Linked DNA regions of Homo sapiens: regions 1, 2 and 4 are each linked to region 3. Evidence: fine-mapped expression QTL. A gene starts in region 3. Each other region holds a variant in brackets. All regions are shown on one strand. Distances are between the middles of the regions.

Region 1 (7,810 bases), 36 kb after region 3:
TTTTCCTAGAAGGGCATAACTTGAAAATGTGCACAGGTGCCTAAATCCTTATCTCACAAACTTTATAGCAAAGAAAGTGTAGTTTTCACATCTCCATGTTGGTTACAGGAAAACGGAATTGTGTCATCCCACAGTTGTGCATTTGGCTCCCCATCTTCCAGTTTTATCGAGGAAAAATTTAATCACAATCTTTCAAACAGAGACGTCTTTCTGACAAAGTCCAGTCACACGGGACCCCTGGGAAGCCAGCCTCAACCTTCCAGGCTGCGAACGTGTGTCGGCCCTTTGGCCAAGGAGCCAGTCACAGTGAAAACCCAAGACGTACATTTCACTCCTTTCTTGTTTTTATTTTTTTGTTTTAGGTTGATCCTCCCACCTCAGCCTCCTGAGTCACTGGGACTACAGGTGTGCACCACCACACCTGGGTAATTTTTTTTTATTTATTTTTATTTATTTACTTTTTGGGACAGAGTCTTGCTCTGTCACCCAGGCTAGAATGCAGTGGCGCAATCTTGGCTCACTGCAGCCTCCGCCTCCCAGGTTCAAGCGATTCTCCTGCCTCAGCCTCCCAAGTAGCTGGGATTACAGGCATGCACCACCACACCCGGCTAATTTTTGTGTTTTTAGTAGAGACGGGGTTTCTCCATGTTGGCCAGGCTGGTCTTGAACTCCTGACTTCAAGTGATCAGCCCACCTCGGCCTCCCAAAGTGCTGGGATTACAGGTGTGAGCCACCGCACCTGGCCCCATTTTACTCCTTAACAGACTTAAATTTTTGGCAAGAAAGGGTGAAGGTACTCAGGTCTCAGTCAGAATCAGGCCCGTGGTTCTGTGCTCTTCCCACGCCCCTGTGCTCTTCCCGCGGCCGGCCGGGCTTTGTGTCATGTCATTTGGGAAGTCGATTATGTTTCCCACAGCTATTCTCCAGTAGCTATGAGAACAGGTTGAAAATGTCTTTCAAGAACAAACCGAAATTGTTTTAAAAGCTCGTGTTTAAACAGAGAAGTCCGTGTAAATGTATTCTAAACTGAGCCTGGCTTCACTCCCTGCCCTGGGGTTCACAGGAAATCTGGCTTTAGCAGTAGGTACTTCCAGGTGTCTCGGGCCCAGTAGGTCCCCTAGAGCTCGACAGACGGGAACTGGAGTCTCCTGGGAAGGAGTTTAGGACAGGTGTCTAGAGTGAGGAAATGGGTAACTCACCGATTTGCTTCTCACACAGGGAAGCCAGCAGTTGTGGGATGCCATTGCCATTGTTGAAATAGGAGTCTCTTGTGCTTTTCTGAATTAAAAACCTTTGCAGTCTTAGATAACATTGTTTCAGAAAACAATGTTTGAAATAGTATTTCAAAAAATACTGAGAATTATTTCCTGCTGTATCTTTTTTCTTTTTCGTTCTGTGTGTGTGCGTTGTATGTAGGCAGACACTGAAAATTGTCTGGTCAAATATAGAGAAATCTATAAATGTGAAGTCTTGTCACTTCCTCAGAGACGGTGCTGCGTTCGTGGCAGGAGGGTGGTGCTTGCTGCAAAGGATGCCTGATTCCCTGTTTGTTCCTGTGCTTGGAGGTGTGGTCAGCCAGGAGGGGCTGTGTCTTCTAAACGCACCTGCCTTTTGATTTTAACCGAAAAGATGATCGCTCCTGAAATGTACATGACAGGTCATTCTAGAAACTAGCCAGATATTGTCCTCAGAAGTCAGCCAGTTAGTACAGGCCTTAGAGAAATTGGGCTGTGGGAAAAATCAGGAATGGAATAAAAACAAATCTGTGGCTTCTGTGGGAGTTGGGGCCACGACAGGGCCACACGGCTCCTCCAGCTCCGAGGGAGACGGGGCCGCGCGGCTCCTCCAGCTCTGAGGGAGACGGGGCCGCGCGGCTCCTCCAGCTCCGAGGGAGATGGAGCCATGCAGCTCTGTGTCTTCTGTGGGTCAGGGCGGGGCCGGGGTGCAAGGACAGAACGCTGCTGTAGTACAGTGGGAGTGTTTTGTTTAGTCTTCCATGATTTACGTCAGTGGGGAATGAGGCTTAGAGTTTTAGAGCTGATTAGGAAATTTAGAACCAACCCATTGTCTAGCCAAATAATTACCAAACTTCTTTGAACTTGCACCCCCATTAGTAAAAACAGTTTTTAAGCATAGGCCTCCAATATATGTACACTGTTGATAAATCACGTGTTTAAATTACATGGCCACGGTCCTGACTCACTCTGTACTTTATGAAACATACATAAAATAGACATTAGAGGGACGTTATAAGAAGTAAATACAGGCCAGGCGTGGTGGTTCTTATCTATGATCCCAGCACTTTGAGAGGCCACGGCAGGAGGATCACTTAAGGCTAGGAGTTTGAGACTGCAGTTAGCCACGATTGCACCACTGCACTCCAGCCTGGGCGACAGAGCAAGACCCTGTCTCTAAAAAATAAGTTAAAATTTATTTAGAAAGAAGTAAGCACACGCAAAGCCTTAGGAATTCTTGGGTCCAGCACACGCCTGCTGTGTTGCGGGCTTCAGAGCCTGGCTGATTCACAGTGGATGAGGCTGGAGCCGGGAGGGGAAGCCATTCATCCAGCGCAGCCGTAGGTGCAGAGCTGAGACTCCACCTCCCCGTCAATCAGTAAACATGTTAAGCCATAGAATTTTATTTGTCTTAAAACTTGGTGTTATAGAAAAGCTCAAAAATGCACAGAAGAGGGGCAGGCAGCAGAGCGACTGCCAGCTTCAGCGCTGACCAGCCCTTGGCATGCGTGTTCTGCCTGCCTGGGGCCACTTTTCTTTTTAACTTTGGAGGGCGGGGAGAACTTGGGCATGTTGTAAAGCAGATAATGCAGTGCGCCGTCATTTCCCTCACAGGTGCCGTGTGCATCACTAACGCAGCTTCTCCACCACATAGCTCAAGTGCCTGTTCACATTTCACAAAATAAGCACAGATTCCTTAGCTCCCAGTCTGTGTTCAGTTTTCCCATCAACAAGCACGCCCTTTTATGGTTGACATGCCGGCACCCTACCTCCAGCGCCTGGGGGCTCTCCCTGCAAGGGCTCTCCCATGGCTGCTGCCCCTCGTGAGCCGTAGACTAGGAGCCCCGGGCGGGCTCTGTCGGCCCTGACACTGGGGCCGGAGCGGGAGCCCTGTATTAGTCCATTCTCATGTCGCTAATAAAGATCTACCACAGACTGGGTAATTTATAAAGAAAAAGAGGCTTAATGGACTCAAAGTTCCACATGGCTGTGCAGGCCTCACCATCATGGTGGAAGGCAAAGGAGGAGCAAAGTCACGTCTTACGTGGCGGCAGGCGAGAGAGTGTGCAGGGGAACTGCCCTTTATACTAACATCAGATCT[C/T]GTGAGACTTAATATCAAGAGAACAGCACGGGAAAGACCCACCCCCATGATTCAGTTCCCTCCCACAGGGTCCCTCCCAGGATACGTGGGGATTATGGGAGCTACAGTTCAAGATGGGATTCGGGTGGGGACACGACCAAATTGTACCAAGCTCTGACGGTGCTGCCGGTCTCTTCCAGGACCTCTACCTGGAGCGCCTGCTGCTGTGTGTGCAGGCTCTGGTGTCTGTGTGTCATGAGGACTGTGGCGTGGCCAGCCTGCAGCTCTTGGACGTGCTGCTGACAATAGTGGCCCTCGCAGGTGCTACCGGCCTGAGGGACAAGGTAAGGCTGACAGTGGTGGCTGCTGCTTGACCTAGCGGAGCTCACAGCTGGAAGGCATCTCTAAGTGAGGTGAACTGTCTCCTATGCATCCCCTCTGTGCTTGACCAGCAAAGACCAGGGATTGAGAACCTTGCGGGTGAGTCCCCGGGCAACGGCCTTCGGGGCAGCTCTCCAGCTGCCAGTGTATTCTGGCATCAGGGAGTGGAGACAGCTGTTTAATGTTAGGGTCTTCAGCAAAGAAGCAAACAAGAAATAAGACGTAACCTTTAAACCTGCGCACTTGAGTAGGGTTTAATAGTGCACATGTCGCTGGGCGTGGCATCTCACGCCTGTAATCCCAGCACTTTGGGAGGCCGAGGTGGGCGGATCACCTGAGGTCAGGAGTTTGAGACCAGCCTGACCAACATGGTGAAACCCCGTCTCTACTAAAAATACAAAAAATTAGCCAGGCGTGTTGGCATGTGCCTGTAGTCCCAGCTACTCAGGAGGCTGAGGCAGGAAAATTGCTTGAACCAGGGAAGCAGAGGTTGCAGTGAGCCAAGATCGTGCCACTGCACTCCAGCCTGGGCTGAGCAACAGAGCGAGACTCCGTCCAAAAAAAAAAAAAAGTGCATGTGCATGTGTGACTGAGTCGAGAGAAGATACCGTGATTTCCCGCTCTCATTGCAGCACAGCGTTCAGAAGTACTTCTCGCCCATGGGCTCCCTGTTTATGCCCAAAAATCATCTTTTTTCTTCAGTGGAGTCTCGCTCTGTCACCCAGGCTGGAGTGCAGTGGCGCGATCTCGGCTCACTGCAACTTCTGCCTCCCAGGTTCAAGTGATTCTCCTGCCTCAGCCTCCTGAGTAGCCGGGATTACAGGCGCCCACCACCATACCCGGCTAATTTTTATATTTTTAGTAGAGACAAGGTTTTGCCACGTTGGCCAGGTTGGTCTCAAGCTCCTGACTGCAGGTGATCCACCTGCCTCAGCCTCCCAAAGGGCTGGGATCATAGGCATGAGCCACCGCACCTGGCCATTATGCCCAAAAATCTTTTAACCCCAACCTTCTAATGGGCTTCTAGGGCCCCTGGAGGCCCCAGTATCTGTCTGCCTCTCTGGAAGCTGAGACTTAGTTCCTCCTCCCATTCTGTCTCTGTGGACAGCCCCTCTCGGCAGATTCTCTCTCTGGGAGATTTACGGCCTGAATGTACTATGGGGAACCTGGTGTGGAGGAGGCTGCTGCCCTCCCCTTCCTTCTTGGGGCCTCTAAAAACAAGCTTCCCAAGGGGCGTGTGTCTCAGCAGATGCTGTCACTGTTAGGGCCTGAGGTACCAGCAAAAGCAAAGTCTTTGCCTGCTGGTCATGGGGGACGAAGCCAGGTAGCCCCAGATTCAGACTCCAGGCTTGGGGCAATGGCCACCGGGGAGCCTCAGCCCTTCCTCTGTTCCTAAGCCCCCAAGGAGAGCAGCCAGCTAAAAGTAAAAGGTGGCCAAGGTTATCATCTCTGTCTGCCCAGTTACTTTTACCTGGAGGTCTGGTCTGCTGGGCTTAACTCTTTAAGCCACTTGCCCGCCCCTCTCTGCTCCTCACCACCTCAGAGGAGCCCTGCCTGCCCAGGCGGACACCACGTCCGTGTAAGCCCCAGGACCACCTGTGCTGTGTGCATCCCAGTGTGCACAGTGCCTGCTTCATGATTCGCTGCAGAGACGGCGTTGGTGTGAACGGGATCAGGGTCTCGCCCTGCACCCGCGGCTCTCGCTCTCCTGCACCCTGGGCGGGGCTCCCTGTGGCAGCCTCCCTCCCGATTATCCTGGCAGGCCCGGCCTGTGTGGTTCTTACGCGTGAGGGGGATAGTGAGTCCCAGCAGGCAGGCAGGCTTGAGCCCTGAGTGTTGGAATTGTCTCAGTCTCTGACTTGTAACCTCCAGGCACAGGAGACGATGGACTCACTGGCCATGGTGGAGGGTGTCAGCAGCTGCCAGGACCTCTACCGCAAGCACATTGGTCCCCTCCTGGAGCGGGTGACCGCGTCGCACCTTGACTGGACCGCACACTCGCCGGAGCTCCTGCAGTTCAGTGTCATCGTCGCACAGTCAGGTGAGCCGTCCCGACAGCTGGCGTGCCGTGCCTGGCCCCACTCAGGCTACACACCTGCTCCCCCAGGTGCTCAGCAGGTACCAGCGCCGACCAGCTGAGCTGTGGTTCACTGAAGCGTGTTGTTAAAAGTACCCAATAGTCACTCTTGCCTGGGGAGAAGCAGCATTTTAAGGAGCATCGCATTGAAGACTGTGGGACGCAGCTCTTCCACTTGGCCCGGGCACACGCTTTCATGTGAAACCTTCAAAGTGTGCTTTTCCGTGGCCTGTTTTGTAGCCTGGCTTCTTAAATACGTCTGGATTTTGTTGCAGAATCTAGATGTCTAGCCGCATGGGTGCTGTGTGTGTGACATGGGGGCCTTAGCCCCAGCCCCTCTGAGACCAGCATTTCTGTGGTTCTCTTTGAGCCTGCGGATCAGCCACTTTTCCTGGGATGGACAGTGTGGCCCAGTGGGGCTTCAGCGCGGGGCAAGATCCACTGCAGAACCCTAAGGAGACGTCCGCTCAGCAGCCATAGTGCCTTGGGACACACGGCCCGCGCTGCTCCACGGGCCGTGAACTCGCCGCGGTAGCTCTTCCTCGTTTGCCTCCCCGGCCCTCCCGCTCCCGCCTGCAGCTCCGAGTGCCCCCGCCTCCTGTTGGATGTGTGCACCAGGGTGGTCGTGCTCTGCATCTGAGGATGCTAAGATCGTTCTTACACAATCTCTGTGCCTGGTAGGGACTCACCTTTTTTTTCCTGAGACTTGGAAAAATACCCAAAATTGTTCTTTGTCAGTTGCATTCAAAACTGTTTCCAAATTAGAAAAGAAAATACTGGCTGGGCGTGGTGGCTCACGCCTGTAATCCCAGCACTTTGGGAGGCTGAAGTGGGAGGATCACTTGAGCTCAGGAGTTCGAGACCAGCCTGGCCAACACGGCAAGAGCTCATCTCTACAAAAAGATGAAAAAAACCGCACGTGCACCTCTGAATCTAAAATTTAAAAATAAATAAAATACAGTTAGCCAGGCGTGGTGGTGTGCGCCTGTGGCCCCAGCTACTCAGGAAGCTGAAGCGGGAGGATCCCTGGAGCCCAGGAGTTCGAAGCTTCAGTGAGCTGTGACTGCACTGCTGCACTCCAGCCTGGGCAACAGAGCAAGGCCCTGTCTCTAAAACCAAACAAAAAACAAAGCTGGCGATTGCTGACGTGCACTCGGGGCATTAAACACTTTATGCCAGACGCTGCTCTGCAAGCCTTAGGGCCGTCAGCTCATCTACCCTCACAGCCGGCCTGTGTGGTGGGAACTGTGACCCCGTTTCACAGACAAGGAGGCAGAGCACAGAGAACTCCCGAGGCAGCGACTCCAGAGCCTCCCTCAGCCCCTCTCCCACGGGCCTCTTGGATGGGGGCCCAGGGTGTTGCATTTCAGATTTTTACTGAATGTTACTCCTAACAACCTCTTGCACCAAATTACTCCAGCCTTCACCTCACAGTCCAGAAAATTGGGCACACAAACCCCGAGAGACGTGGCTTGCAGTGAAGCCAGGACTTGCATTTACTGCAGCTCTGGTGGCTTCTCCACCATCTGTTCTTCCTCTTTGCAGAAGCATTTCTTATGGTGTTGGCGGAACTGATTGGCAGCTTGGAACACACATCTCTTTGGGCCCACATCTCCTGTCATTCACTGAAAGGCAGGAAGACTGCAGTATGCCGTTCAGTGTCAAGAGCTGGGTATAAAACTGTATGGGTTTTTTTGTTTTTTGTTTTTTGAGACGGTCTCACGCTGTCACCCAGGCTGGAGTGCAGTGGTACGATCACAGCTCACTGTAGCCTCAAACTTCCGGGATCAAGTGATTTTTCTGCCTTAGCCTCCTGAGTAGATGGGATTGTAGGCATACGCCACCTGGCTACTTCTGTATGTTTTTCTAGAAATGGGGTCATATATGCTGCCAGGCTAGTCTTGAACTCCTGGGCTCAAGCGATCCTCCTGCCTCAGCCTCCTGAGTAGCTGGGACCACAGGCACCCACTACCACGCCTGGCTAATTTTTGTATTTTTTGTAGACATGGGGTCTCTTTATGTTGCCCAGGCTGACCT
Region 2 (7,810 bases), 27 kb before region 3:
CATGATGGAGACTGCAGTGGAGGCAGAAACAGTTTCAAGTGAGATGGGCGAGGTCACAAGACAGAGCCCACTGGAGTCTGCAAGCTACAGGAATTGTGACCAAATAAAGTGCCTCAGCCAGCCACCGGTGGGGTCAATAGGGCTTGTTTTTTTTGTTTTTTGTTTTTTTTTTGAGACGGAGTCTCGCTCTGTCGCCCAGGCTGGAGTGTAGTGGCGTGATCTCAGCTCACTGCAAGCTCCGCCTCCCGGGTTCATGCCATTCTCCTGCCTCAGCTTCCCGAGTAGCTGGGACTACAGGTGCCTGCCACCATGCCCGGCTAATTTTTTTGTATTTTTAGTAGAGATGGGGTTTCAGCGTGTTAGCCATGATGGTCTCGATCTCCTGACCTCGTTATTCACCCCTCTTGGCCTCCCAAAGTGCTGGGATTATAGGCGTGAGCCACTGCGCCCAACCCTTTTTTTTTTTTTTTTTTTTTTGAGATAGGGTCTTTCTCTGTCACCCAGGCTGGAGTATAGTGGCGTGACCATAGCTCACTGCAGCCTCGACCACCCAGGCTCAAGCAATCCCTCCATCTCAGCCTCCTGAGTATCTGGGACCACAGGTGCACCACCACCAGTATGCCTGGCTAAATTTTTTTATTATTATTTGTAGAAATGGTGTCTTGCTATGTTGCCCAGGCTAGTCTCAAGCGATCCTCCTGTCTTGACCTCCCAAAGTGCTGGGATGACAGGCATGAGCCACAGCACCCGGCCCCAATGGAACTTTTTTTTTTTAAAGAAAGATGGAGTTTCACTCTTGTTGCCCAGGCTGGAGTGCAGTGTCGCGATCTTGGCTCACTGCAGCCTCCGCCTCAAGGCTTCAAGCAATTCTCCTGCCTCAGCCTCCCGAGTAGCTGGGATTACAGACATCAGCCACCACACCTGGCTAATTTTTGTATTTTTAGTACAGACAGGGTTTCACCATGTTGGCAAGGCTGACCTCTCAAACTCCTGACCTCAGGTGACCCACCTGCCTCCATCTCCCAAAGTGCTGGGATGACAGGTGTGAGCCACCGCGCCCGGCCTCAATGGGACTTAGCTTTTGAGATCCATGCTAAAAGTAGTTTACTTCATAGAGGAGAGACTGGCCCAGGGCCTCACGGCTCCGGCAAGGACCCTGGGCTCTCCCTTTGCAGGAACCAGAAGCCGCTTCTCTTCAAGGAACGAGGTTGGGGTCCCAGTCTCTTGGCTGAAAGAGCTTTGCCTGTCCAGGCTCGACGGGACTTCCCATCTTTGGCAGGTGAAGAATCAGACTAGGCAGGATACAGGTGGTTCCATACACACAGGCCGCTTCAGGAGGCCTTGGGAGAAAGGGGGACAGCGAGCAGGGCCCCTCCCCAGGGCTGCATGGGGGTGACCTCTCACGGGCTCTGCCTGTGCACATGCCAGGCTGCTCTTCCCCTTCCCCTCTTGGGATTCCGGGAAAGCCTCTCATTTTGCAGCCCCCACTTCCTGTCTCCTGTTTTCATACTGATGCATTGTCTGAGCTGCAGGACGGTCGAGGTCGTGGGGCCGGGACAGGCTTTCCAGGCCAAAGCCATCTTCGTAACAACACTGTGGGAACAGGGTTTCCAGAAAGCTCCGTGGCCAGAATGTGCCCCAGAATCGAGGAACCCGGCCCTGGGGATTGTCCTGCTCCTATCCCGTCCCACAGAGGGGGATGAAGTGCAGACGTCCAGCCCAGAAAAGAAAATATCTGGGCGGGGCCTGGGGTGGGGGTGGAATCTAAAGAGATTTCCTAGACCCAAGTTTATCCTCCCGAGAGAAGCCTACACGCAGGGATTACAGGCAGATGGAATTCCTCAGTCCTGCCTGCGGCCCGGTTCTCGCTCCTGTGGGGACACAGCCTGCCCCGTCCCACTGAAAGGGTTTTCTGAGAGGCGGCTGATCCACCCCGCCTGATGCCTTCAACGGAGGGCGTCTAGGCTTCCACGGGGTCATCCACTGCGTGCCGGGCAGGCATGAGTGGTGTTTCTGGACCACCTCCTCCGAGCAGTTCCATGAGCGGCCCTAAGACAGCCCCTCTGCACTCTGTGAAACCCTAAATCTCAAGCGCCAGTTGTATTTGAGGACCAGGGGTCTCCAGGAGAGGGCTCACATGGTACCAACCCCAGGCCAGGACCCATAAGCCCACCTAGCAGCGGCAAATCATCCCCAGCCATGAGGCGGGGAAACTGAGGCCCAGAGAGGGTAAAGGATTTGTTCAGGGGAACCCAACCATTCAGTGGCAAGGTTGGAAGAGAAACGCAGGTCTTCAATCATTTACTGAGCACCTATTGTGTACCAGGCCTCACATAGAGAGTATAGCAAACAAGGGAAGGCGAAGGAAAGGAGAAAAGAGAAGGGAAGAGAAGGGAAGGGAAGGGAGGGGAGGGGAGGGGAGGGAAGGGAAGGGACGGGAGGGAAGGGAAGGGAAGGAAGGGAAGGGAAGGGAGCGGAGGGGAGTGGAGGGGAGGGGAGGGGAGGGAAGGGAGCGGAGGGGAGGGGAGGGGAGGGAAGGGAAGGGAAGGGAGGGGAGGGGAGGGAAGGGAGCAGAGGGGAGGGGAGGGAAGGGAATTAGAAATTAACAGGCTGGGCAGGGCACCATGGCTCATGCCTGTAATCCCAGCACTTCGGGAGGCCAAGGCAGGTGGATCACCTGATGCCAGGAGTTCAAGACCAGCCTGGGTCACATAGGGAGACCTCATCTCTATAAAAATATTAAGAAAATTAAAAATTAAATTAATAAAATAAAAATAAAAATAGAAGATGAAGATGCAAGTCCCAGTGAGGCTAGGGGCAGAGTGTACACAGGAGGGTGTGAGCACAGGCGAGAGCCCTGCTCACCCTCAGAAGCAGATGGCATGACTCTATGTGTGCACATCTAGGAAAGTACGTGTGCATGTGTGTCTAGGTAAGTACGTGTGCGTGTGTGCATATCTAGGTACGTATGTGTTAGTGTGTGTCTAGGTAAGTACGTGCGTGAGCATGTGCACATATGTGTGAACATGTACATATCCAACTAAGTACATGTGTGTGCACATCCAGAGAGGTACATGCATGTGACCATATGCACATCTAGTTAAGTACATGTGTGAGCGTGTACACATGCATGCAAACACACCCCTTACATCCACCACTCTCGGAGTAAACTGAGTATGTCCAGGTGTGCGCACAGCTATGCATCTGGGTAAGTGCGTGTGTTTTAATGCATGTGCACACACGACTCCACGTACCCTCCTCCTCGGTGGCAACAGTACATCCTTGCCTGTGTGTGCATGTGTGTGCATCTGGGCGAGTGTGTGTACATGTCACTCACACACACTTGCACTCACTCCCTCACCCACCATGGCGGCTGTCTCCCCACCCCACCTCTCCCCACGCAGCAGCAGCAGCTGGTGATTCAGCCTCTCCCTCCTGGAGGGCAGCACCCCAGCTCCAGCCTGCCACACACAGGGGCACCAGCCTTGCAGGGCAAAGGCGGAGAAGCCTGAGTTCCTAGGACGGAGGATGAGAAAGAAGCAGAAGGGGGGGTTCCACCATCAAAGCCAACCCCAGGAGAACCCTGCACCCTGCCCCAGCACGCCAGGGGCCAGAGCCCACAGGCAAGGTGGGAAGGGTGTGGCCTCAGAGGCATGCCTGGGTTTGCGCCCAGCTCCATGACTCTCCCTGGCTGATGGTGGGGAACCCACGTTCTCTCTCCAAGCACCCGTTTTCTCATTTGTAAGATGGGAATGTAAATATCTCATCTGGCCAGGCCTGCGTGAGAATTCGATGAGATAAAGTATGCAAAGCACCACGTGCCATATCTCGGTGTTCCTGCACTGGGAGGCACTGAGTCCCAAAGCAGGAAGGCACTGACGGTTAGGGCCCCTCCCAACGCAG[G/A]AACAGCCGGGGTAGGAAGGGCAGAGGTCACAGCTGGAGGAAGGAGTGGGCAGTTACCCCCTCAGTCCATCACACACTGTCATGCTCACCAAGTAGTGAGCTAGGAGGGCCAGAGGACACTAAAGACCCTCCCTCCCTGCAGAGCTGGGACTTGGGGTTGAAGCTCAAGCCGAGATCTCCTCCTCTGAGCTCACCCAAGACAGGGTCGTGGTGAGAGGCTCTCTGAGGAAGCAGCCGTGGCCCTAAAGCAAGTGCTGAAGAGCGGCCAGCTGCAGGAGGGGTGGGGAGGAAGTTCCAGGTGACAGGACAGTGCTGGCCGGAGCCCGTGGGTGGCCATGGGCTGCAGTGGAGAGGCAAGCAGGAGCCAGACCCCGTGAGGCAGGAAGGAGCTTAGATTTGTTAGGAGAGCACTGGAAAGGTTTGGGAAGGTTTTAAGAAGGGGGAGCAGTTCAATTTGTGTTTCTGGAAGATGGCTCCAGCTGTGACTGATATGGAAAATGGAGCTCGAGGCCCGATGGGAAGCAGAGAGGCTGCTGCAGTCATTCAGCCGAGGGGACAGCGGCGTGGGCGGGGGAAGGGGCGGCAGGGAGAGAAACAGGCATATCTGTGTGCCAGAGGTAGGATCTCTCTTGCATGGAGAATGTGAGAGAAACCCCAGAGGAGAAAGGACAAAATGGGGGTCCCCGAATTCCATGAACTGATACGAGTGTGAGGTTCAACCCCAAGTTTCGTATGCACAGAACACAGAGAACCACAGAAAAGGTGCTGAGGACTGAGCTGCAAGCAAAACAATGTCCAAGTCCCAGACCAGCCCCCAAGCGACCCACACAAGGGTGCGCCCAAGCAGCACCCCAAAGGCTTGGAAACGGAACTCATGTTGGCATCGTCACCCACCAAGGATGAGAGAGAACTTGCAGCATGGACCTCGTCAATTGATTTCCTGCCAAAACAAACAAAAATATCAACATTCTCTCTCCATAGGATTTTAATGGGATTCAAAGCTTGACAACATAATATAGAAAATGTCCAGGATATAATCCAGTTCCTTGACAAATTATTCAACATATCAAGAACTAGGAAAGTCTGGCCAGTTCTCAAAGGAAAAGACAACCCATGGCTGACAAGCTTCAGATGCTAGAGATGACGGGATTATCAGGTTAACACTCTAAAGCAGCAATTTTAACTATTTTCCATGAAGTGAAGGTGAATACTCTTGGAATTGGTGGGGGAATCAGCAAAGAAATCAAATTTATTTAAAAAAAAAAGGAAGAAGAAAGGAGGAGAAGGAGAACAGGAGGAGGAGTAGGAAGAGGAGGAACTACCAAATAAATTTAGAACTGAAAAATAAATACAAATTTTAGAACTGAAAAATAAAGTAACAGAAAATCTTAAATTCACTAGATGGGATCATTTGCAGAATGGATATGACAGAGGAAAGACCTTGTGAGTTTGAAGAGAGATCAACAGAAATCATCCCACCAAAAGGACAGGTGGGCAGGGCATCGTGGCTCACGCCTGTAATCCCAGCACTTTGGGAGGCCGAGGTGGATGGATCACCTCAGGTCAGGAGTTCGAGAGCAGCCTGGCCAACATGGCTGAACCCCATCTCTAAGTAAAATACAAAAATTAGCTGGGCATGGTGGTGCGCATCTGCAATCCCAGCTACTCGGGAGGCTGAGGCAGGAGAATCTCCTGAACCCAGGAGGCAGAGGTTACAGTAAGCCGAGATCGCACCACTGCACTCCAGCCTGGGCAAGAGAGCGAGACTCTGAAAAAAAGAAAAGAAAAGAAGGAAGGAAGGAGAGAAGGAGGGAAGGAGGGAGGGAAGGAAGGAAGGAAAGAAAGAAAGAAGGAAAAAAGAAAGAAAGAAAGAGAAAGAAAGAAAGAAAAAGAAAGAAAGAAAGAAAAGAAAGAGAAGAAAAGAAAAGAAAAAGAAAGAAAGAAAGAGATTTAACAGAGCCTCAGGGACTTGCGGGAAAATATTTTAAAATCTAACATTCATGTCACTGGAGTCCCTGAAAGACAGGAAAAAGAGATTGGTACAGAAAAATATATTTGAAGACATGATGGTTGAAAACTTCTCAAATATGTTGAAAGGTATAAATATTCAGATTCAAGATCAAAGGAAAACAAGAGAAACTCAAAGAAAATCAAACTCAGACACATTGTACTCAAACTCTGACAAACTAAATACACAGGGAAAATCATGAAAGAAGCCAGAGAAAAGAAACATAAAGCAAATGAGGGTTCAAAAGGCTGATTTGTCATCAGAAACCATAAAGAACAATGGGAAGACATCTTTAAACTGCTGAAATAAAATCACTCTCCACTCAGAATCCTGTATCTGTAAACATGTCCTTGTCCTTCAGGAATGAAGGCAAACCAGAGAGATTCTCAGATGAAGGAAACTGAGAATCTGTCACCAGCAATCCTGCTCTAAGAGGAATGCTAAAGCGAGTTCTTCAGGCTGGTGGGGGAAATGATCACAGAGGGAAAGAAAAACACTTCAGGAACCACGGAAGAGTGACAGAAATGGGAAATACCCAGGTACATCTTCTAGACTATTTGCCCCTCTTAAATTACTGAAAATACGTGAAAGTGTTAAAAGTAAAAATTATAACATTGTCAAGGGAGTGGGGGAAAGTTCAACATGTGTAAAGATGATACGTACAACAACCAGAAATAATAAGGGGAAGGTAAATGGGCCTATGTGATGGAAAACTTGTATGTTTTACTTGAAATGGTAAAATATCAACTCTAAAAAGTCTGTGTAAAGTTATGTATGTATATTATAATGCCTATAGCAATCACTTAAAGAAAAACAGTAAAAAAGACAGTAAGTACTAAAAAATAATCAAATAATCTAAAAGAAGGAAGGAAAAAAGAAACATAGGAAAAAAAACAGAGAAAACAAATAGAAAAATAATTAAATGGTAGACCTAAATCCAACCATATCAATAATTACATTAAATGTACATGATCTATACATGAGGTAAGATATATAAAAGTAACCATCTTAAAAAATAATGGTTGAAAACTTGCCAAATTTCTTGAAGGACATAAATTAACATCAAGATTTGCAAAGGGAAACCAGACAAACTCAAAGAAAATCATATTAAGATGCATCATAGGCTGGGCGTGGGGCTCACACCTGTAATCTCAGCACTTTGGGAGGCCGAGGCAGGCGGATCACGAGGTCAGGAGATCGAGACCATCCTGGCTAACACGGTGAAACCCTGTCTCTACTAAAAATACAAAAAATTTGCCGGGTGTGGTGGCAGGTGCCTGTAGTCCCAGCTACTCGGGAGGCTGAGGCAGGAGAATGGTGTGAACCCAGGAGGCGGAGCTCGCAGTGAGCGGAGATTGTGCCACTGCACTCCAGCCTGGGCAAACGGGGCAAGACTCCGTCTCAAAAAAATAAGTAAATAAATAAATACATAAATAAATAAATAAAGATGCATCATAATATATACTATACTATATATACTATATGTACTACATATATAGTAATAAACAGTATTTTCTTTTTAAAAAGTGGATAATCTAAACACACCAATTAAAAGACAGAAACTGTCAAATCATATAAAAAAAGAAAACCAAGTATATGCTATCTATAAGACACACACTTTACTGATATAGCTAAAATAAGAGGATAGAAAAAGATTAATCACACAAATCCTAATAATGTGGCTGTATTAATATCAGATAAAGCAGACTTCAGAACAATGAAAATTACCAGGAACAAAGAGAAACATCGAATAATGATAAGAGGGTTTATTCACATGAAAACATAGCAATCCCAAATGTATATGCAACTAATAACAGAGCTCCAAAACACATAAAGCAAAAACTGATAGAATTAAAGGAGACACAGACAAATTATAATTGGAAGTTTCAATGCTGTTCT
Region 3 (7,810 bases):
TTATGTTTTTCATTGAATTGGGGGAGTTTTCAGCCTTTTTTTTTTTTTTTTTTTTTTGAGATGGAGTCTTGCTCTGTCACCCAGGCTGGAGTGCGGTGGCATGATATTGGCTCACTACAACCTCCACCTCCTGGGTTCAGGCAATTCTCGTGCCTCAGCCTCCCCGAGTAGCTGGGATTACAGGTACCCACCACCACACCCAGCTAATTTTTGTATTTTTAGTAGAGATGGGGTTTCACCATGTTGTCCAGGCTGGTTTCAAACTCCTGACCTCAGGTGATCTGCCCGCCTCGGCCTCACAAAGTGCTGGGATGACAGGCGTAAGCCACTGCACCTGGCTAATTTTTCTATTTTTAGTAGAGATGGGGTTTCACCATGTTATCCAGGCTGGTTTCAAACTCCTGACCACAGGTGATCTGCCTGCCTTGGCCTCACAAAGTGCTGGGATGACAGGCGTGAGCCACCGCGCCTGGCTAATTTTTGTATTTTTAGTAGAGATGGGGTTTCACCATGTTGTCCAGGCTGGTTTCAAACTCCTGACCTCAGGTGATCTGCCCGCCTTGGCCTCACAAAGTGCTGGGATGACAGGCGTGAGCCACCGCGCCCAGCTGGTTCTTATGACTCTGCTTTAAAATTCTTGGCAGATGATTCCAACATGTGACCTATCTTGGAATTTACATCCGTTACCTTACCATGTTCAGGTTGTGGCTTTCCTTGTTCTTGGTATGACAAGTGATCTCCAGATGTATCCTGGACATTTGGGTTACGATGTTTGCAGACTCCTTGTCCTACTCTATTCCACCAGGCAGTTGCTCTGTTCAGGTCCAGGGTGTAGATTGCAGCCTGTTTTTGTGGTCTGTCATTCCAACAGCAGTTTCGTCTTCAGAGCCCTGGCACTGCCCTCCTCGTCTGCTTTATTCTTCTGGCTCTCCTGGGACTGCTGCTCATTTCCCATGGGTGCTGCCTGCAGGGGTGAAAGGTACCTCCCTGGGCCGCCTGGTGTCACTGGGCTACCTTTTGCTGTGTCAGGACAGAACATGCTCGTTCTGGGTCTCTTTGTGCTAAGAGAGGAAGGGCAGATTTCAGGCTCCTCTGACACTACCTGTGCAGTGCAGACTGTCCACTCGAACCCCAGTTGCACAGCACAGGTTAATGCACCTGCAGCAGCTTTAAAATCGGCCCTGAAAGCAGACTGTGGGGTGAAGGTGGCAGCTACCCTCTAGGTCTCTGTTGGGCGTCCCCTTTCCCAGGGCTTTGGCCAGAGAGAGGAGGCTTTCCTTGGAGAATTTCTGTCTGTGCCTGTTGGCTGTTCTGGGCCACAGGCTTCCCTGGGGACTAGTGCAGGAACACATGAGAGAAAAAGAAAACCCAGGGGACCCACCACCTTGCTATTCCTCCAGTCCAGAGGTCTCCAGCCCGTCTGTCAACTCTCAAGCTCCTTTCCTCGTCGCCTGCTATGTGCAGGGTATTTTGTTGTATTTCAATGGGAGGAGCAAGGAAAAGTGAAGTCCCACCACCGTAATTCAAGCGCTTATTCTTTCTCGTCTTCAGCACTCACTGCCACAGCCTTCCCAGGGCTCCCGACCAATCCGTTCAACGGAAGCCAAAGGGGTCCTTGAAAAATGCAGACTCGATCTTGCCAATGCTCCCACCTTGAAATCCTCAGTCTGCCATGTTTTAGGACAGAGGCCCCCATGGCCTGGCCCCACCCATCTGCTCACTCCCTGCCTGCTCCCCTGTGACCAGGGTCAGCCTCCCTCCCTGTTTGCTACCTGAGGCTGCCGTAACAAAGCACACCAGGCTGGGCAGCTGAATGAAACAAATTTGATTTCTCAAGATCAGGGTACGGGCTGGCTCCTCTTGAGGTCTCTCTTCATGCTCATACTGCATTCTCCCTGTATGCACGTCTATCTCCAAAATTTCTCCTTTTATGAGGACAGCAGTCATATTGGATGAGTGCCCAACCTCATGACCTCATCTCACCTCAATCACGTCTGCAAAGACCTTGTCTCCAAACAGGATCACTTCCTGAACTATGGGGGTTAGGACTTCAGCATATGAATTTTGGGGAGACGCCATTCAGCCCGTAACACTCCCATGAGGCCTTTGCTCATGCTATTTCCTCTCTCTCCAACACTCCCCGTCTCCCACCTCCGCCCTTTCACCTGGCTATGTGACATGGTTTGGCTGTGTCCCCACCCAAATCTCATCTTGAATTGTAGCTCCCACAATTCCCACGTGTTGTGGGAAGGACCCAGTGGGAGGTAACTGAATAATGGGGGCAGGTCTTTCCTGTGCTGTTCCTATGATGGTGAATAAGTCTCACGAGATCTGACGGTTTTATAAGGGGGAGTTTCCCTGCACAGGCTCTCTCATTTTCTCTTTGCCTGCTGCCATCATGTAAGATGTGACTTGCTCCTTCCCGCCTTCGGCCATCATTGTGAGGCCTCCCCAGCCATGTGGAACTGTGAGTCCAGTAAACCTTTCCCTGTATAAGTTACCCAGTCTCGGCCATGTCTTTATTAGCAGCGTGAAAATGGACTAATACACTGTGTTTACTTATTCTTCATATTTCACCTCTGCTACCATTTGTTCAGGGAAGCCTTAAAAGTCTAGTTCAACATCCCTTGACACTCATTCTCTCAGGACCACCACGGTTAAACACATACTAATTTATCCTTCCATTAAGGGCTATCTCATCCTGCAAGACCCTAAGATCTGGGAGAGCAGGGACCATGGCCAGTTTCTACATCATTGTCATCCTGTCCCACATGTTGCAGACAGTGCCTGGTCAAACAAATGCCTGTTGGAGGAAACAATGAATGAAGGTTACTGAATATGCTACATAACAACTTTTCAGAAGTACTGATGGGCCGGGCGTGGTGGCTCACGCCTGTAATCCCAGCACTCTGGGAGGCTGAGGCGGGCGGATCACGAGGTCAGGACATCGAGACCATCCTGGCTAACACAGTGAAACCCCGTCTCTACTAAAAATACAAAAAATTAGCTGGGCGTGGTCGTGGGCACCTGCAGTCCCAGCTACTTGGGAGGCTGAGGCAGGAGAATGGCATGAACCTGGGAGGCAGAGTCTGCAGTGAGCGGAGATCGCGCCACTGCACTCCAGGCTGGGCGACAGAGCAAGATTCCATCTCAAAAAAAAAAAAAAAAGACGTACCGACAAACACCACCATTTTGCAACACGAAGATCAACAACAAAAAAGAAGGTCAAACTTGAAGTTCTGTCCTAAAATTACACACATTCTGCCTTTAGAAAACTCAGTGCATGGTCACAGATGAGAAGTGCCTGGCTAACCAGACTTGGGGACTCCTGGTTTGCAGTGAGTGCTGTCAAACTCGCGTTCTAGGCTGGGCTCACAGCAACTCCGACTCCAAGCTGTTTAGGCGCCTCTGTCTCCACTCAAGTCCACAGTCAAGGTCACTACTGTGAAACACTGTCTTGCTTTTAATTTCCAAGCTGCCTTGTTATTTCTTGGGAGTAGGCCAAGCTAACTTTAGGAGGAACTTAGTTTATAGTTTAACTTTGAAACAAAGATGATAACAGCCCTTTCCTGAAGCCAACCTCCTTCTTGCCTGGGGACCAGAATGCTTTTGTAAGACTAACACATGAGCCACAAGATTAGAAATTGTGGTTTGAGTCATGCAGCTAGAGGCCACAAGATTCCAAACCTCCCCAGTTGCTCCTTAGGATAACACCACTATCATCAACTCTAAGATTGGTGCTCAAGATATTTTTCAGGCTCTGCATTCTGATGCACCAGGTGCCACCACCCACACCACTAATCTGGCTCAACCAGTTCTGTGATCCCACCCAGGAACAGAAGACAGCAAGAGAATCAACTTTGACTCTCCATGGTTTCATCTCCAACCCGACCAATAAGCACTGCCCTCTCCCTGGCCCCCTACCTGCCTAATTATCCTTAGATGACCCATCTCAGGATTTTCAGAACCTGGTTTGAGCAATAAAGCTCCAGTGTCCTTTAGCCAGTTTCTGCATGCAGCCAGTTTCTGCATGCAGCCAGTTTCTGCATGCATTAAACTCTCTATTGCAATTCCCCTGTCTTGATAAATTGGCTCTACCTGGGCAGCGAGTAAGGCGAACCTATTGGGCGGCTACGCCTGAGATCTAATGACAGGCTGCACGTGAAGCCCAGACCAGGCACCTGTCTTACACCACAGGGGGATCCAGTCCACAGAACCAGCGTCCTTCCCTCCTGGAACGGACCTTCCCAAAGCCAGAGGGGCTCTAGGCGGCTCAAACAGGGGCTTCCCGGCTACCCTGGTCCCAGGCGGGACCACTCAGGTTCCTTCTCCAAGCCCCCTAGGCTGCAGGGCAGGCTTCCCTAGGGGCAGGCCCAGGCCTATAGCCCGGGACCCGCATCCCGGGCGAGCTGCACCCTCCCGAGACCTTCCCCATCTGTACAATGGGGACAGGACAAGGCCCAGCAGGCAGGCTGGCGGGGGTTCCGGCGACAGAGGGGGACAGCGGGCGAGCACGACAAGAGCACAGGCCCACGTGCGCACCGGCGGGGAGGAAGTAGCCCGGCGCCCCGCCCGCAGCGCGGACCGGAAGTGCTGCCGTAATCTGCGCTGAGAGTCGCGAAAGCGCTGTTCCCCTTAGTGACCGGCGACGCGGGCAAGATGGCGGCGCTGGGGGTGGCGGAGGCCGTGGCGGCCCCACACCCGGCTGAGGGGGCCGAGACGGCTGAGGCGGTGGAGCTGAGCCGCGCCCTGAGCCGCCTGCTGCCGGGGCTGGAGGCCGACAGCAAGCCGGGCCGGCGGCGCGCCTTGGAGGCCCTGCGGCGCGCGCTGGAGGAGCCAGGCCCTGCCGCCGACCCCACCGCTTTCCAGGGCCCCTGGGCGCGCCTACTGCTGCCGCGCTTGCTGCGCTGCCTGAGCGACCCCGCCGAGGGCTGCCGCGCGCTGGCAGTGCACCTGCTGGATCTGGGCCTGCGCCGCGCCGCGCGGCCCCGCGATGCCCTGCCGCGCCTGCTGCCCGCGCTCGCCGCGCGCTTGGCCGGCCCCGTGCCCGCGCGCCGCCCGCCCGAGGCCTGTGAGGAGCTGCGCCTGGCGCTTGTGCAGCTGCTGGGCCTGGCCGTGGACCTGTGCGGCGCCGCGCTCGCGCCCCACCTGGACGACGCTCTGCGCGCGCTGCGCTGCTCCCTGCTCGACCCCTTCGCCGCCGTGCGCCGCGAGAGCTGCAGCTGCGCCGCCGCCCTGGCGCAGGCCACGCCCGGTGAGCACCCCGGGCCCCGCTCCCACACGCCACCCCACACTCTCACCCCCACCTCCACCTCCGCGGCCCCTCTCACAACCCCCGCGGCTCGGCCCCGCCCCCCTCCACGCCCGCACCCCCCAACATCCCGGACCCCCCATGCGCCGCTTCCCCCACCCGCCTGCCCCAAAGCACCCCGCCCGGCCCCCTCCTCCCACCACCACTGCTTCCCCTGCCTCACGTCCCGCCACCAACGCGCCCTTCAGCTGCTCCCTTGTCCTCTACCCCCATGTACCTGTTTCCTGCGCTGCCACGTGCTCCTTGCCCCGTGACCCCTGTTCCTGCTTGGCCCTCACTCACCTCACTCCCCTGTCCCCTTGCTCCCCGCCTCCACCCTCCACGCCCCAAGCCCCGCCCCCCACCTGCCTGCTCCCTGTGCCCCCTCCACCTGCCTATCCTGTGCCATCCTCCTCCTTGCACGCCGCCCTCCCGCGACCCTCACCTCCCACCCTCCTCCCTGCCTGAGCCCCCTCCACCCCACCCGGGCCCACGAGCCAGCGCTTCTGTCCAGATACCTGGAAACCACCGCAGAAATTCCTGTTAGGCGGTTTGGGGTGGGGTGTGCCCTGATAGCTGCCCCCTTTCCTTCCCTCGGGGGCTTGCAGGACTTGCACCTGGTTGAGGGCACGCGCTTTGAGACTCTGCTCTGGTCATTTCACTTTCTGTCCCATTCATCCTACTCCCCTGCCTTTCCGCTCTGGCTTGGACCACTGTCCTAAGTGGAAGGAGGCCGCTTCTCCCCTCCACTTTATAACGTTCCCCATCTTTTTTAGAGCTCTGATCTGATCCGGTCGTTCCCTTTCCTTAGCTGGCCATTCCTGCAGGGTCTTGCCCTTTCCCTCCCCTGGCTGGGATGTGGAATGATAGCAGGCGCCTGCTTCCTGCTGGCGGGAAGGCTTTCCGAAGGAGGGAACACTGATGCTATAAATCCGTGGGCGGTAGGGAGCAGGAAAGCAGTGAGGGATCTGGCCAGCTCAGGCCGTCCCAGTGATGTCCCAGTGATGGTCTGAATGTAGTGGGAAGTGCAGGGGGTGTCAATAGAAGTGATAGACCCGAGTTCAGGTTGTTAAAAGATCACTGCAGCTGCGTGGAGAATAGATTCCAGAAGTAGAGGAAGAGCTGGACTTGGGGAAATGCCGAGATTTCCACGTTGGTTAACTTTGGATTTCACATGGTCCAGAACTCCTGTGGAGCTTGGGGAAGAACCTTGGGCTGGATGGACATGGCCATTGAGAATTCCTGGCATTTAATGTATTTCTTCTTCATCCTCAACCACTTCCCTACCCAGTCTGTACATCAGCCCCACGAGCTCCCTCCCTGGACCGTAGGTTCCACAGGACAGCACTGTGCCCATCTGTGCCCCAGCCCCAAGCGCAGCCTGCTGGGGTATGTGCTCACTGGTTGCTGTGGGGTGAGGGACTGTGCCTCTGCCTGGAGCATCCCCTCATCTCCAGCACCTCTGGCCTTCCTCTCCCCTGGGTGGGGGGCCTCACCTCTGGTCTCGGTCACACTGGGCAACGGCAGAGAGGTTGAGGCGCTCACCCAAAGTCTCACTGGAATAGCCGTTTCCCAGACGGGCCCCAAGTAGTGCAGAGCTGAGGCAAGAGGCGGCCTGGATGCCAGAGACCCTTTGGTTCTGACTTTTTTTTTTTTTTTTTTTGAGACAGGGTTTCACTCTGTCTCCCAGGCTGGAGTGCAGTGGGGCGATCTCAGCTCACTGCAACCTCCGCCTCCTGAGTTCAAGCGATTCTCCTGCCTCAGCCTCCCAAGTAGCTGGGATTACAGGCGCCTGCCACCTCTTGTTCTGACTTTCTGCGGGGACTTTACAAATAGGAAGTGCAGTGGCTTTGCCTGGAGTGGTGCTGGCCCAGCTTCCTGGAGGAGCCTGGGGTCTCGTCTCAGGTGGGGCTGGGAGTGTGGCCTCGCCTCTGTCTTCTGGGCTCGGCTTCTTTCCTCTGGCCAGTGTCCCCGTCAGGCCTCCACCTTGGCTTCAGCAGGTCCAGGCTCTCTGGTCTTCAGCCACAATGGGTTTGCACCCCCAGCCTTTCCCCGCTGGTCCTCCTAAGCCTCTGGGTTGCACAGGTGTCATCAGGGTGGGACGCTTGTCCCTGAGCCTCTTCCTGTGCCGGGCGGTACAGAGCTCTCCTTGGCAGCCTGGATTGTGTACTGTTCATGCAGCAAGGACCTGGCGTAGGAGAGGAAGGGAGGTGAGGAACTCATAGGCAGGCAGCCGTCCTCTGGAAGCCCACAGAGCTGGGCGAGGCGTGTGGGAGCAGCTCTGGTAACTGGGGGCCTCCCTGTCCCTCAGACCACTTCCACATGCAGTCGGAGTCTCTGATCGGGCCCCTGATGCAGACCATCTCCCACCAGCACTGGAAGGTCCGTGTGGCCGCCATTGAAGCCACAGGCGCAGTGATCCATTTTGGCAACGGGAAGTCCGTGGACGACGTGCTTTCCCATTTTGCTCAGCGACTGTTTGATGACGTCCCGCAGGTAACTGGTGTTTCTCCTGGACAG
Region 4 (7,810 bases), 24 kb after region 3:
CACCTGTGCACACACGTGTACATGTATATCCTCACACACGTACACACTTATCCTCACACACGTGTACACACATATACACATCTGCACACGTGTGTACATGCATATCACACGTACGTGTGTGTGCACATACATGTACACATGTACATACACATCCTGCCCTACCCCGCCAACTGTCTGGCCCTGCTAGTAGGTTCCCGGAAGGGGCTTCCTCCCTGTGGTGGAAACACAGGCTCTTTGGAGGCTGCCTGATTTAGAATTGGTTCAAGGACTTGGGAATGTTCCTGACTGATAATTACAAAAACACAGTTAGTTATCCGTGCCGAGGCGTAGAGAGTGTCGTTAGGCACAGAACTTTTGTTTCAAGTGGAGCAGAGTAAATTTAGAATTGAATGACAGTCAGTCAGTCGCATAAGCACTACGTTGTGTTAGATTTTTGGCATTTTCTCCTCAAATTACTTTTCTCCAGTCTGTAGATTTGAATTTTAAATACGATTTCTCAGATTTTTTTCTACAGTATTTTAAATGTCAGATCAGAAGATTTTTTGAGTCTCTTCCTCAGAAGTTTGCACTGGCCCTGTATTGCCAAGCACACACCCTCCCTGCCGTCCTGCCACCCCCCGCCTGCCGTGCCCAGGGTCTGTGACGCTCTCCTTACTGTCTTGCCCCCCCCTGCCCGCTGGGCCCAGGCTCTGTGTCCTCACTTTCCCCCGCCCGTCATGCCCAGGGCCTGTGACGCCCTCCTTACCGTCCTGCTGCCCCCCACCCAACATGCCCAGGGCCTGTGACGCCCTCCTTACCGTCCTGCTGCCCCCCACCCAACATGCCCAGGGCCTGTGACGCCCTCCTTACCGTCCTGCTGCCCCCCACCCAACATGCCCAGGGTTTGTGACGCCCTCCTTACCGTCCTGCCCTGTCCAGCGTCTGTGTCATCCCTTTCCCCCGCCCGCCGTGCCCAGGCTCTGTGTCGTCCCTTTTCCCCGCCCGTCGTGCCTAGGGACTGTGACGCCCTCCTTACGGTCCTGCCACCCCCCACCCACCTTGCCCAGGGTCTGTGACGTCCTTACCATCCTGCCACCCCCTGCCCACCCTGCCCAGGGTCTGTGATAGCCCTTCCCCCGGGACCACGCTGCATTCACCCTTCAGGGCTGCAGCTCTGTGAGTTTTGAGCAGCACCGCCTCTGTCCCCTGCATGTGGGCATCTCCACCGCCCAGAACTGCTCATGGGCCCTGGCACTGCTGCTGTGGGCTGCGTCCTGTGTGTCCCTTCCAGGATGTCACTTGCATGAGGTTGTGGGAGCGTGGCCGCTGGCGTCTGCTCTTTCCTCTCTGTGTCGGAGGCTCATGCATGGCACCTGTGTCTGCAGCACTTTCCTTCTTCGCGTGAGTCACGTTCCCTCCCGTGGATGGACCATCTGGTCACCAGCAGGGGCATATTCGGGTCCTTTCTAGTTTTTGGCCATCACAGGTAAAGCTGATGTAAACACTTGCAGACTGGTTTTTGTGAGAGTGTTTTATTGGATAAACACTCAGGCGTGGGGTTGCTGGGCCATAGGTACAGTCCTTACTTTGTTAGAAACTCACCACACACTGTTTTCCACACCCTTCGCGCCATGTCGCATCCCCACGGGCACTGGATGAGATTTCCAGGTGCTGCAGTCAGGCCAGCGTGTGGGGTGGAGTTTGCTGTTTTTAGTGTGTCGGTTGGTGTGCAGTGTTGGCACACGGTGTTGGTGTCCAGTGTTGACACACGGTATTGGGGTTTGCTGTTTTTAGTGTGTCCAGCTGGTGTGCAATGGTGGCACAGGGTGTTGGTGGGGTTTGCTATTTTCAGCGTGTCCGGCTGGTGTGCAGTGGTGGCCCACGGTGTTGGTGGGGTTTGCTGTTTTTACCGTGTCTGGCTGGTGTGCAGTGTTGTCACACAGGGTTGGTGGGGTTTGCTGTTTTTAGTGTATCCAGCTGGTGTGCAGTGTTGTCACACAGGGTTGGTGGGGTTTGCTGTTTTTAGTGTGTCCAGTTGGTGTGCAGTGGTGGCCCACAGTGTTGGTGGGGTTTGCTGGTTTCAGTGTGTCCGGCTGGTGTGCAGTGGTGGCCCACGGTGTTGGTGGGGTTTGCTGGTTTCAGCATGTCCGGCTGGTGTGCAGTGGTGGCCCACGGTGTTGGTGGGGTTTGCTGGTTTCAGCGTGTCCGGCTGGTGTGCAGTGTTGTCACACAGGGTTGGTGGGGTTTGCTGGTTTCAGTGTGTCCAGTTGGTGTGCAGTGGTGGCCCACGGTGTTGGTGGGGTTTGCTGGTTTGAGCGTGTCCGGCTGGTGTGCAGTGGTGGCCCACGGTGTTGGTGGGGTTTGCTGGTTTCAGCGTGTCCGGCTGGTGTGCAGTGTTGTCACACAGGGTTGGTGGGGTTTGCTGGTTTCAGTGTGTCCAGTTGGTGTGCAGTGGTGGCCCACGGTGTTGGTGGGGTTTGCTGGTTTGAGCGTGTCCGGCTGGTGTGCAGTGGTGGCCCACGGTGTTGGTGGGGTTTGCTGGTTTCAGCGTGTCCGGCTGGTGTGCAGTGTTGTCACACAGGGTTGGTGGGGTTTGCTGGTTTCAGTGTGTCCAGTTGGTGTGCAGTGGTGGCCCACGGTGTTGGTGGGGTTTGCTGGTTTGAGCGTGTCCGGCTGGTGTGCAGTGGTGGCCCACGGTGTTGGTGGGGTTTGCTGGTTTCAGCGTGTCCGGCTAGTGTGCAGTGGTGGCCCATGGTGTTTTACTTTGCGATTCCCTAATGAGAGGACATTGGGGCCTTTTCCTGTGCTGTGGTGTGCTTCTGTGCACCCGTACGTCGTCTTTGGTGGCCATTCAGAACTGCCATCCATTAAATCGAGTTCTGTGTTTCTGAGTGCGGAGTTTGAGGACCCCTTCCGTGCTCTGGATGCAGGTCCCTCATCAGACTGTTTTAGGCTCCACAGCCAGGCCTCAGCTCCAGCTCCCGCTCCTCTCCTCAGAGCTCCGGCAGCTGCCGCCCCCATCCCCCCTGCTCTGTTTCCTCCTGCCCCCTACCACAGTGGAGGTGCTCCTTCTCCTCGGTGGACTCGGGCCCTGTGCTCACCTCACCGCTCGCTCCAGGGGCCAGTCTGTCTGCTGCCATCCTCTGCACCCAGAGGCGGTGAGCCAGGCTTAGTGGCTCTGTGAGCACCCAGCGAGCTGATGAGTGGCTGCGTGTCCTGTCTTACCAGCAAGAACGGACAGTCCAACCGTGTGGTTGGGTTGCCGAGTGCGTGAACAGGCAAAGTTCGGTAATATTTTCAGACCACTGCTAATGCAGACGGTGCTCAGAGGTAATGACCTATCAATAAGGAATTCACATGGGCCTGGATCTGAAGTTTCATCAGAGTCCAGTTTTCCTGTTTCCTAAGAAAATAAGGTACACACCATGTGGAAATATAATTCGTACCATATAATTTGTTGTTAGCTTTGCAGACACAGCGTAAGTTTCCATTAACAGCACTGAAACCTCCGCCTTAAAAACCAAGCTTCGTGCTGGGAGGGTTGGGAGGGCACCACTTACCGTCCTCAAGTCGGTCATTTCCCTGAACAGAGTGCCCTTCTCACACGGAAGCACACGTTCACGCCTGGTGTGTATCTGACAATCACACTGCCAGCCGCCAGCAGCAGATGGCTTGGTGACAGCGGCTCCAGAGTCCTTTCTGCTTTGAGATTATCCCTCTGTTAAGATTGTTTTCCTTGGCAATGCCTGAGCGTAAAGGAAAGCGTCTCGATGCTGGTGAGTGGCCGGCCAGAGCTTTTCACACAGGAGGACAGAGTTGGCTCTTCTTAAAGCCTGACTTAGAAGTGAGCAGGGTTCCCTGTGGATGAACGCTGCCACGTGACAGCCTTCCCCCTTCATTCTCCTGTTCTGCCTTGGAGCTCGCACCCATTCTGCTTTGCTTGTGTGTTTCATCCATGTGTTTGGAAAGATGGAAGCTTGAATGGAAATTGTCAGAAACGTTACGTTGTGCAAATGGGCTGGAAAAGCTGGTTAACATTGTTTGAAGCCAGCAAGGTCCCACGAGCATTGGCCCACTCTGAGTTAGCCGGGGGTGTTACAGAAGAAGGAACTTCTTTTTCTTTTTTTGAGGCAGACTTGCTCTGTCACCCAGGCTGGAGTGCAGTGGTGCGATCCCAGCTCACTGCAACCTCCGCCTCCCAGATTCAGGCAACTACTGTCCTGCCTCAGCCTCCCGAGTAGCTGTGATTACAGACGCGCACCACCGCACCTGGATAATTTTTGTGTTTTTAGTAGAGACAGGGTTTCACCATATCAGTCAGGCTGGTCTCCAACTCCTGGCCTCAGGTGATCCACCCGCCTTGGCCTCCCAAAGTGCTAGGATTACAGGTGTGAGCCACGGTGCCCAGCCTATGTCTGCTATAATATTAAGTATAGAAAAACAGGCTTCAGAACCATGTTCAGAAGCATGTGCTGAGTAACAGCGTTTGAGTCCATAAGGACCACGTGGAGGAGGGTGGTCCCCTCTGATAGTAACATTGTGTTTCTCCTTTTTCTGTGTTTGGAAACACTCACTCACTGTCTGTGCTACAGTTTCTGCGTGTTGAGTGCAGTCACCTGCTGCACAGGTTCGTGGCCTAGGAGCCTCACAGGCTATATCGCACAGCCCAGGCAT[C/T]GCACAGCCAGGCACGTAGGAGGCTGCGCCATCTAGGCTTGTGTACGTCACTGTAGTACGTTCACACGGCAACGAAATCACCCAATGACGTGTTTCCCAGAACGCACCCCCCACCGTTCAGCAACGCTTGACTGTACCAGCGGTCCCCTGCCATTTTGGCACCAGGGACTGGTTTTGTGGAAGACAATTTTTCCATGGGTGGGGCAGGGAGCAGGGTGGTTTCAGGTTGAAATTGTTCTACCTCAGATCATGAGGCATTCAATTCTCATAAGGAGCACGTAACCCAGGTCCCTCACACGCACAGTTCACAGGAGGGTTTGCCCTCCCCTGAGAATCTCATGCCGCCACTGATCTGACAGGAGGTGGAGCTCAGGCGGTCACACTCCTTCACCATCTGCTCACCTCCTGCTGTGGGGCCCAGTTCCTAACAGGCCTTAAACCAGTCCCAGCCTGTGTCCAGGCCTTGCGTACCCCTGCCCAGCACCGGCCAGTATTTCTTTGGAAACACCCAGAAGCCCAGGTGCCCACAAAGCTCTGTTCAGCTGTCAGCAGACCCCTCCCCGGCTGTTCCTGGTCACGCATCTCTCATTTTGCAAACTTTCCAGAGCGGATCGTCATCAGGAAGAAAGGTGCAGCTGGGCGTGGTGGCGCATGCCTGTAATACTGAGGTCAAGAGTTCAAGACCAGGCTGGCCAACATGGTGAAACCCCATCTCTACTAAAAATACAAAACTTAGCCAGGTGTGGTGGCATGCACCTGTAGTACCAGCTACTCAGGAGGCTGAGACATGAGAATGGAGAATTGCCTGAACTCAGGAGGTGAAGGTTGCAGTGAGCTGAGATCGCACCATTGCACTCCAGCCTGGATGACAGAGCGAGACTGCATTTCAAAAAAAAACGAAGAGAGGTGTGTTTGCACCCTGGCTTTTTTGTTTTTTACAAAATGATGACAGGATCATTTAAACAGCCAGCAGAATTTTAATTATTTGGAACTAATTCCATAATACAGGATAAAAACAGAAAAATAACCAGAAAAAGGTTAAAAATGGGGTGTCCTGGTACAAGCTGTTCTTATTAAAACATACCCTTTAGCCTGGATGCAGTGGCTCACACCTGTAATCTTAGCACTTTGAGAGGCCGAGGCAGGAGGGTTACTTAAGCCCAGAAGGTCAGTGCTGCAGTGAGCTGTGATCGTACCACTGCACTCCAGCCTGGGTGACAGAGTGAGACCCTTTCTCTAAAAATAGAAAAAGACCCTTTAAATCCTGACATATCATGGTTTCATTTCTATCTTTACAGTTGTTCTGAATTTTTTTTTTTTTTTTTTTTTGAGATGGAGTCTCACTCTGTCGCCCAGGCTGGAGTGCAGTGGTGTAATCTTGGCTCACTGCAACCCCCACCTCCTGGGTTCAAGTGATTCTGCTGCCTCAGCCTCTGAGTAGCTGGGATTACAGGCGCTCGCCAGCACGACCGGCTTATTTTTTCTATTTTTAGTAGAGACGGGGTTTCACCATGTTAGTCAGGGTGGTCTTGAACTCCTGACCTCAGGTGACCCGCCTGCCTTGGCCTCGCAAAGTGCTGGGATTACAGGCATGAGCCACCGTGCCCGGCCTGAATTTTGAAGATCAGAATCTTTTCATCAAAGTCCCTGAAGGCTTTTCTGTAGAAATCGACAAACTGATTGTGAAATTCTCGTGGGCGTGCAAAGGACCCACAGCTGCCGAAACACTGGGGAGGAGTGAAGCTGAATGGCAGCAGGTCCTGGGTGCAAGACTCACAAAACCACAGTCATGGGGCCACGTGGTGTTGGCTTTCAGACCGATGAGCAGAACGAGAGCGTCCAGAAACAGGCGCCCGCACGCGGACCACTGACTTGATGAAGGCTCAAAGACCATTTAATGGCATCTTTTAATAAGGATACTGTAAATGATAGGATCACTCATACACCAGAAAGTGAACTTGGAGTCAAAAAATTAACCCCAGATGCGTCAGGGATCTGAAGGTAAAGCCCAGAACCGCAGAGCTAGGGCGAAGCCTTTGTGACAGTGGGCCGGGCCACACTTCGTGGGATACGTCCTCAAAAGACCGCAGAGTGATGACGAAGCCTTTGTCACCGCGGGCCGGGCCACGCTTCCCTGGGTGCATCCTCAAAAGACTGCAGAGTGACGACGAAGCCTTCGTGACCACGGGCCGGGCCACACTTCGCGGGATACGTCCTCAAAAGACCACAGAGTGATGACGAAGCCTTTGTCACCGCGGGCCGGGCCACGCTTCCCTGGGTGCATCCTCAAAAGACTGCAGAGTGACGACGAAGCCTTCGTGACCGCGGGCCAGGCCACGCTTCCCTGGGTGCATCCTCAAAAGACCGCAGAGCTAGGACGAAGGCTTCGTGACCGTGGGCCGGGCCACGCTTCCCTGGGTGCGTCCTCAAAAGACCGCTCTGTAACAGGGTAAAGCAATGTGTGGACTTCATCAAAATGAACACTTCTGCTTTTTCAAAGGCCTGTTGAAAAAACGAAAAGACAAACCAAAGACTGAGATGTTTGGAGATGATGTATGTAAGGATTTATCTCCAGAGTATAGGAAGAGCTCTTGAAACTCAGCAGGAAAACAATCCATTTTTTTAAATGGGCAGAAAACAATTTGGAAAGACCCTTTACCAGGGAAGATAGGCGGCAAACAAGCCTGTGAAGAAGACGCTCGGCGTCGTTAGTCATCGGGGAATGCAAAGGAAAAGCACACGGAAATGCCACTGTGCCTCTCGGACTGCTTTCAATTCAAGACTGAGCGTACCGCGTGCCGCTGAGAGTGGGAAGGAGCGCGGACTGGCTCAAACACTTTGGAAAATGGTTGGACAGTTTCTAAAACAGTTAAACGTGCACCTTCCCTGTGGCCCAGCCCTTCCACAGCTGGTATTTGTCCCGGCACAGTGAAAGCCCAGGCCACACAGACTTGCCCTGGACACCATTTGAATGCTTCTCCACAGAGGAGCGGGCACTAAACTGGCATCTCCCCAGAACAGGCCACTTCCCAGGTTCAGAAAGGAGCGGGCACAGGCGGGCCTCAGAAAACGATGCAGAGTGAAAGAAGCGGAGAAGGGAGGAGAGTGAACGAGAGGCTTCCACTTGTGTCAGGCTCTAGAAAGTGCAGCTCAGTCA

Alleles and levels. Positions count from the first base shown, and alleles are read on the strand shown. Sizes are in standard deviations (SD) of each study's normalised expression. Not every link is listed here.
As copies of C replace T in region 1, the expression in uterus of the gene that starts at base 4,638 in region 3 goes down (small effect, 0.34 SD a copy in GTEx).

Evidence for each region. PIP is the estimated chance that this variant, and not a neighbour inherited with it, causes the effect.
Region 1: its variant is the best candidate, but not a certain one, in a credible set for the expression of DNAAF5 in uterus (GTEx, PIP 0.65).
Region 2: its variant is the best candidate, but not a certain one, in a credible set for the expression of DNAAF5 in gastroesophageal junction (GTEx, PIP 0.81).
Region 4: its variant is the best candidate, but not a certain one, in a credible set for the expression of DNAAF5 in whole blood (TOPMed, PIP 0.55).

Annotation. Positions count from the first base shown.
Region 1 is chr7:758,238-766,047 of GRCh38, forward strand. DNAAF5 (dynein axonemal assembly factor 5) reads left to right here. Exons shown (of 13, transcript NM_017802.4): 7 at 3,516-3,659; 8 at 5,569-5,737. Among named protein-coding and RNA genes, the nearest start is that of PRKAR1B, 35 kb to the left of the region's middle. The variant C/T (reference allele first, on the strand shown) is at 3,337.
Region 2 is chr7:695,510-703,319 of GRCh38, forward strand. The region is part of intron 2 of PRKAR1B (protein kinase cAMP-dependent type I regulatory subunit beta); the gene reads right to left. Among named protein-coding and RNA genes, the nearest start is that of DNAAF5, 27 kb to the right of the region's middle. RefSeq lists enhancers at 904-1,404, 1,405-1,905. The variant G/A (reference allele first, on the strand shown) is at 3,904.
Region 3 is chr7:722,062-729,871 of GRCh38, forward strand. DNAAF5 (dynein axonemal assembly factor 5) reads left to right here and starts at 4,638. Exons shown (of 13, transcript NM_017802.4): 1 at 4,638-5,254; 2 at 7,602-7,786. The coding sequence starts at 4,660. PRKAR1B (protein kinase cAMP-dependent type I regulatory subunit beta) reads right to left here and starts at 5,220. Exons shown (of 11, transcript NM_001164760.2): 1 at 5,149-5,220. RefSeq lists silencers at 4,711-4,910, 5,161-5,210, 5,271-5,380, 5,421-5,500.
Region 4 is chr7:745,610-753,419 of GRCh38, forward strand. All of the region lies in intron 4 of DNAAF5 (dynein axonemal assembly factor 5), which reads left to right. Among named protein-coding and RNA genes, the nearest start is that of PRKAR1B, 22 kb to the left of the region's middle. RefSeq lists an enhancer at 6,216-7,415. The variant C/T (reference allele first, on the strand shown) is at 4,654.